Linked DNA regions of Homo sapiens. The protein of the gene in region 2 purifies or fractionates together with the protein of the main gene of each other region. This does not show direct contact. Each region holds a gene or a part of one and is shown on either strand. Other genes may lie near its edges. The genes, in order: PPWD1 and TPMT.

Region 1 (3,822 bases), on a different chromosome or scaffold from region 2:
AGTAAACATCTAGGAAATAAACCATTTAGTAACAAAAACTCTATATACATATACCTATATCTATATCAACCCATCTATCTATATATGCAATGAGAATTTAAATAGAAGCAGAATACATATTAAGAGCCACTAACTGTTTGTACTTCTTAAGAGGGATTCTAAACAATATGAAATAGACATTAGTAAGTCCAATCACTAAAAAATAGTATTTCAGGCTGGGCATGGTGGCTTATGCCTCTAATCCCAGCATTTTGGGAGGCCAAGGCAGGTGGATCACCTGACATCAGTTCAAGAACAGCCTGGCCAACATGGTGAAACCCCGTCTCCACTAAAAACATAAAAACTTAGCCGGGCATGGTGATGTGTGCCTGTAATCCCAGCTACTCGGGAGGCTGGGGCAAGAGAATCGCTTGAACCTAGGAGGCAGACGCTGCAGTGAGCCGAAATTGCGCCACTGCACTCTGGCCTGGGGGACAGAGTGAGACTCCGTCTCAAAAAAAAAAAAAAAAAAAAATTGTATTTCAAAATGGTAACTGGTTCTTCTAATTTAAAACAAAACCCGGTTGGTTAATAGAACTACTGCTTTCTCTACAGAATACATCTGCTGCCTTTTAAAAGTCACAGAGTAGCACTTTCCAATGAAATATAACACAAGCCACATAGGTAATTTTAAAGTGTCTAGTAACATTAAACAAAGTATAAAGAAAACAGGTGAATTTCATTTTAATGTTTGATTAAACTCAAAATATCCAGAATATCATCTCAACAATATAAAAAATTGAGATAACTTACATTCTTTTAAAAAAAATTAAGTCTTTGAAATCTTGTATTTTACACTTTCAGCATATCTCAGTTTGGACTAGCCATCTATCAAATGCTCAGTAGACACGTGGCTAGTGACTGTTTATACTGGATAATGCAGCTATAGACTATGAGGTCCTTGAGCAAGGTTACGTGCCTGACATAACAAGCACTCAATTTTTGCTGAATGAATTCATCTCACTAATTTATAACAAATTCATAATATTTCAGAAAATGTCTCAAGTTATTCTGACACAGGGCAGTGAGATTACCATTAGGTACATGTTATTTAGTAGACATGACTATTTCTATAAGTGTCCTTTATAGTTTGGAAATTTGGTTTACTTTTCTTTTGATATTACACAAATTTCAAGATAGGCATCACATCTCAATAACTGTATTAACATATTATGAACCTTCCAAAAGAGTAACGATCTTTACATTCTTTTCTACACAATCAGGGCATCAAACAGTAGCATTCAAAAATAGCTCTCCATTGCAGATGAAAATAAGCCAGACTTCTGTCCCATCTAATTCTATCCTTATTTCATGCTTATATTAACCATAATCTTGTGTTTTCTAGATAAGGTTAGAACTATATACAAAACTCAAAAAATCAAAATGAGGTATGTGTGTTAGGGTATAAGCACAAGGTCAAGGTCTTACAGAACAGTTAAAAAGCCTAGTTGTTAGGTTTTCTTGTCTCTAGTCTCAAAGACAGGGAGACTGATACATATTACGCTGCTTATTCATGTGCCAGGAATAGCCTAGGATGCTGGACTACACATTTTGCAGGGAAGGGCTAATGATCATTTCTGCCGGAGAGAAGACTCAGTTTTTAAGGCATAAGGTCTGTAGGTGGTCATCTGTCCCTATATAAGTATTCCATAAATGTTATCCAACCTGGTAAGTACCTGATCAGAATCTTTTTCAGAGTGCTCTAGACTTCATAGCAGGGCTTCTGTGATATTCAACTGCACAGCCATATATAGTGACCCTGGTTAATAAATACTAAAAGATAATTTACACCATCCCATTCAATTTCTTTTCTGTTAAACTAGGATTCCGACTGGTTAGAAACTACCCTCCTCCACTACCACCTCCTTGAGATTCCAGTCATTTACTAGTCACTAGCACTGTAAGTAATTTAACTGATGGTTGGCTTTTTTGGCAAACTCTCATTCTGAATCTCCACTTCTGTCTTAAGTTCTACTACTGACTTCTTGTCACCTCAGGCTAATCATTTAAGCAAATGTTGAAGACAACAATGAGCAAATAGAGTGGATTGAGCAGCTCAGAGTATGTGTGTTAAGAGATTTGTGCCGGCCGGGCGCGGTGGCTCACGCCTGTAATCCCAGCACTTTGGGAGGCCGAGGCGGGTGGATCATGAGGTCAGGAGATCGAGACCATCCTGGCTAACAAGGTGAAACCCCGTCTCTACTAAAAATACAAAAAATTAGCCGGGCGCAGTGGCGGGCGCCTGTAGTCCCAGCTACTCGGGAGGCTGAGGCAGGAGAATGGCGTGAACCCGGGAAGCGGAGCTTGCAGTGAGCCGCGATTGAGCCACTACAGTCCGCAGTCCGGCCTGGGCAACAGGGCGAGACTCCGTCTCAAAAAAAAAAAAAAAAAAAAAAAAAAGAGATTTGTGTCCAGAGACTAGATTCTGAATATTTCTTTGCCTAAGGGATCTTGGAAGAGCTGCAAGTTAATAGAATTTTAAAATTATATTTAAATTGCAAGTCATATTTAGTTATCTGCCACCATTAAAGAAAGTATTACCGATAAATGTTTCTCCTTAAAAGCAGAGTGGAAAGCTATCTTCTTCCAACAAGAAAATTTGTCATAAGGATAATTTGGCTGGCAAACAGATCTTCACATTTGTCTGGAAATATATTACTTCAGACAGACAGACAACCAACTCATTTATTACCACGTGCCACCAAATCAAGATCGCCACTAGAAAGAGTTGACAGAATTTATGAAGAGCTTACAGCAGGGAATCCAATGCAAATTGGTCACTGCCAAGGACAAAAGAACTGACACTGTCATACAATAAACTTTGCTACAAAGGTTCAATCCAGACTCAGAGGATTCAGAGAACCACTTGATGGCAATAGTTGCAATCACAGAAACCGCTTAACTGCATGGATTAAAAACTCTTATTCCACGACTACATGCTGTAACAAATTCTTGTTAGCAGTCTAACAAGTGATGGCTAGAGTCACTCTTTCAAAATATTTGAGTAACTCTTGTGTGAGGTACTGTTCTCACTGCTGGAGATAGAATCATAAGTTAAAACAGATCACATAGGGCTTAGTCTACTGGAGGTGATACACATTAATCAAATAATATGACCATATCAAATGCTCTAAAAGAAACAGTGATCTACAGTCACATTAAAAAAAACTCTGCTGGCTTGGCACCGTGCCTCACACCTGTAATCCCAGCACTTTGGGACGCCAAGGCAGGCAGATCACTTGAGGCCAGGAGTTCAAGACCAGCCTGGCTAACACGGTGAAACCCGTCTGTACTTAAAAAAAAAAAAAAAAAAAAAAAAAAAAAAAAAAAAACCATCTGTACTAAAAAAAACCCATCTCTAATAAAAAAAAAATATATATATATATATATTAGCTAAGTGTGGTGGCACACGCCTATAGTCCCAGCTACTTGGGAAGCTGAGACAGGAGAATCGCTTGAACCCAGGGGGCGGAGGTTGCAGTGAGCTGGATCATGCCACTGCACTCAAGTGCAACTCTGTCTCAGAAAATAAATTAATTAAATAAATAAATAATAAAAAATAAAAAAACTGTGCAAGACAGGATGACTAGTGAAAGCCTTCCAGGGGAAGTGACTCTTCATTTGAAATTTGAAGTACCAGTTCAATAGGTAATGGAGGAATATGAGGAGGGAGGGCCTCACTCCAGGTGGAGGAAACAACTTATAAAAAGGTCCTGTGGTGGGAGGCAGGTTCAAGAAATAAAAAGAAGACCCAAATGGCAGAATAAAAGGCAGGGAGAAAGG
Region 2 (3,822 bases):
TTAGTTTGCCATGGGGCCTGGGATGCTGCAATTTAACAAATATCCTGGGTGACTGGGACCCCTCCAGGGGCCTTATGTAAGAGAAAACACAATTTTTTTCCTCTATTTAGTTAGAAATGAGAGTAACAAGCAGGCCAAAAAAAGGTGGCATGAAATTAAAGCTCTGCAAGTGTGGCATAAACCATGAGTGCAATGGAACTGTCCTTTGAGTAGGTGCCTCAGGGAGCCAGGTCTGATTGGCTCAGAGTGGGAAGCTGATGCTAACAGGACCCATCAATAGACTGAGCAGAAGCCAGGGCTGGACCAGGTACAGACGATGAGTTGACCAATCAGATGACTGACTTGGAAACTGAATTAAGAGACCAAAGAGGAATTGCTAATTAGCTGTGGTCCTACTGAAAGTTGGAGCTTTTGTATTGTATGGTGGTTGGAGCAAGGAGGCTGACCGTTGAAGGCAAGTCAGCTATGTGGGAATAAAAATGGAGGAAGCTGAGGGATAAGGAGAGGACAGGAGACGCATGCAGGGTGGTAGAGAGGCCATGAGAGACAGGCCAAGGACAAAGATGGACACCCTTCCCCACACTGAGGAAGGAGCCTGGGCTCTTGGCACTCCAGTTTCTATGGAGCCTGGCTAGACTGTGATCTATGTCCAGAGGTCTGCCAGAAGTTGGGGAGGCAAGTGCAGACTCTATGAGATGCCCAGGCTCAAACCCCAGCTCCTCTACTGACTGGCTATGTAAGCTTGACAAATTCTTAACCTTTCTGTACCTCAGTTTCCTCACCTGTAACATGAGGATAAGACTAATAACCACCTCACAAACTGTGAGAATTCACCAGTGGATCACTCTTCCTTGTAGGTGAAAGAACCACATCAAAGCAAACTTTTGAACAGAAACTGTTACTTTCTGATTCTCATTTTTCAGAAGAAACTTGCTGTCCCCATGAGGGGGATGTCAGACTGGTTTGGTAGGGTTTCCTAGGACTGAAAGACTTCATTCCTCTTAGAATGTGAAGTTTTTCTCTCTCAACCAGTCTCAAAAAGTCCAGAAAAATGAGGTCTGCCCTACTGGTTTACATTAGGCAAGAACTCGAGAGTCACAGCAGAAAATACATCAGTACTTGACAATGTACAATCTAAGGAGAAGACACCCAGTCCTAACGAAAGCACCAATATAATGTGCTAACATGGTAAGTACTGAGTACCAGCATGTAGATAAAGAACTAAGATACTAAGTACCAGCACATATATAAAATACTAACATAAGGCTGGGCACGGTGACTTACATCTGTAATCCCAGCACTTTGGGAGGCCGAGGTGGGCAGATCACCTGAGGTCGGGAGTTCGAGACCAGCCTGACCAACATGGAGAAACCCCGTCTCTAGTAAAAATACAAAATTAGCTGGGTGTGGTGGCGCTACTGTAATCCCAGCTACTCTGGAGGCTGAGGCAGGAGAATCACTTGAACCCAGAAGGCAGGGGTTGCAGTGAGCCGAGATCATGCCATTGCACTCCAGCCTGGGCAACAAGAGTGGAACTCCATCTCAAAAAAAAACCCTAAGATACTACCAGTACATAGTAAACTAATATCGCCCTTGCTCAGAGTGCAGTTCACTTCTTCCATTCATTTATTTAAACAACATTTATTAAGCTCTTACTAGGTGCTAAATATATATTATATCAGACACTGGGGAAATAACTGACCTCAGGTGATCTGCCCACCTCAGCCTCCCAAAGTGCTGGGTCCGCTCTTGGTCTGCACGTGGTGACTTTTAGTTTGCTTCCCACTGCTTGGTGGATTTTACCATGCCAACCAGAGCCTGTAGAAGGACTAACCTCTAAGGAATGGATGATCATCTTCAGGGAGTGGGAAACACCTACAAATTTAGACATTAGCAGATGGGGTTTCATATACAAATGTGTCTCACGGAGACAGAGGTCTCGGTGATATTTTGAGTTGTTAAAGGACACTGATGTCACATGGGAAGTGCAAAGCAGACACTGGACATGTGATGTGGATGTTTGGGAGAAAGAACAGAGCTGGAAATGTAAAGACTGTCAGAGCGAATACCATGTATAATCTGTTCAGTTACTTGCCCCGCCTCTGGCATACTATCTATTTGGAACATCACAGGAACTTAGTAAATATTTGTTGAATAGCTGAATGAAAGTAACAGAATTGATCTTTAAAGATTTGATTTTTCAGCCAGGCGTGGTGGCTTACACCTCTAATCCCAGCACCGGGTGGCCGAGGCGGGTGGATCAGCTGGGGTCCGGAGTTCGAGACCAGCCTGACCAACATGGAGAAACCCCGTCTCTACTAAAAATACAAAAAAATTAGCCGGGTGTGGTGGAGCATGCCTATAATCCCAGCTACCTGGGAGGCTGAGGCAGGAGATTCGCTTGAACCTGGCAGGCAGAGGTTGCGGTGAGCCGAGATAGTGCCATTGCACTCCAGCCTGGGCAACAAGAGCGAAACTCTGTCTCGAAAAAAAAGATTTGATTTTTCTCTCATAAAATTTTTTTTTCTTTCTGGTAGGACAAATATTGGCAATTTTTGGGTGAGAGCATAAGGCTGAGGATGGTGGTCCCTTGGGGAATCACGACTTTTAGGCATGCAAGGAGGATGGGAGTTCTGGAAAAGAGATAAAGGAGGAGCAGTGAGAAAAAGAGGGAAACAGGAGCATGAAAATTAAGATGCGGCATGGTCTAATTTAAAAAGATTAGGTTTGGCAGTAAGCCTTACTGATGAAACAATTTTTAAAAATAAAAATCTTATTTCACTGATGTGGAGCCTAACCTGTTTTTTTTTTGGTTGTTTGTTTGTTTTTTTAGATGAAATCTCACTCCGTTGCCCAGGCTGGAGTGCCGTGGCACAATCTCGGCTCACTGCAACCTCCACCTGCCGGGTTCAAGCAATTCTCCTGCCTCAGCCTCCCAAGTAGCTGGGGCTACAGGTGTGCGCCACCAAGCCCAGCTAATTTTTGTATTTTTATAGAGATAGGGTTTCACTGTGTTGGCCAGGCTGGTCTCGAACTCCTGACCTCATGATCCACCCACTTCAGCCTCCTAAAGTGCTGGGATTACAGGCGTGAGCCACTGCGCCCAGCCTCCTTTTTGGCCAAGTGATGAGTCTGCTCCATACAACTAAGTAATTCAATATTTCCATGCTATATCCAAGTAAGCACATAAATGACATTATTTTAATTGAAAGAGTATACAGATGTGGTCACATTTTACTCAGTATGCTTCCTCACTCATATTTTAATTTTATTTTCTAACAAGACTCGGTATAATAAGAATGGTCATCAAAAACATCAATAACAATGCTTCAATAATAACAGCTCTCATTTATACAGTTCTTTAGAGATGACAAGGTATTTCCTACATATTTCATTTCTTTCAATTCCCACAAAAATCCTTTGAGGTAGTCTAACAAAGGGATCATGAGTGTGGACTTTATTTTATTTCATTTTTTTGAAATGGAGGGTCGCTCTTGTCGTCCAGGCTGGAGTGCAATGGCGCCATCTTGGCTCACTGCAACCTCTGCCTCCTGGGTTCAAGTGATTCTCCTGCCACAGCCTCCTGAGTAGCTGGGATTACAGGCCACCACATTGGGCTGATTTTTGTATTTTTAGTAGAGATGGGGTTTCACCATGTTGGCCAGGCTGGTCTCGAACTCCTGACCTCAGGCGATCCGCCCACCTTGGCCTCCCAAAGTGCTAGGATTACAGGCGTGAGCCACCACACCCGGCCACAAGTATGGACTTCAAAGCCAAACACTCTGGTTTTGAATCTCAACTCTGTCACATACCAGCTGCTTA

Evidence for each region.
Region 1: the proteins of TPMT (region 2) and PPWD1 fractionate together in Homo sapiens (co-fractionation; one large-scale study listed by BioGRID). This does not show direct contact.

Annotation. Positions count from the first base shown.
Region 1 is NC_000005.10:65,573,066-65,576,887, reverse strand, and holds part of PPWD1 (peptidylprolyl isomerase domain and WD repeat-containing protein 1), read right to left. Parts: intron 10-3,822; coding exon 1-9. UniProt on the Homo sapiens protein: PPIase that catalyzes the cis-trans isomerization of proline imidic peptide bonds in oligopeptides and may therefore assist protein folding. May be involved in pre-mRNA splicing.
Region 2 is NC_000006.12:18,134,326-18,138,147, forward strand, and holds part of TPMT (thiopurine S-methyltransferase), read right to left. Parts: intron 1-3,822. UniProt on the Homo sapiens protein: Catalyzes the S-methylation of thiopurine drugs such as 6-mercaptopurine (also called mercaptopurine, 6-MP or its brand name Purinethol) and 6-thioguanine (also called tioguanine or 6-TG) using S-adenosyl-L-methionine as the methyl donor.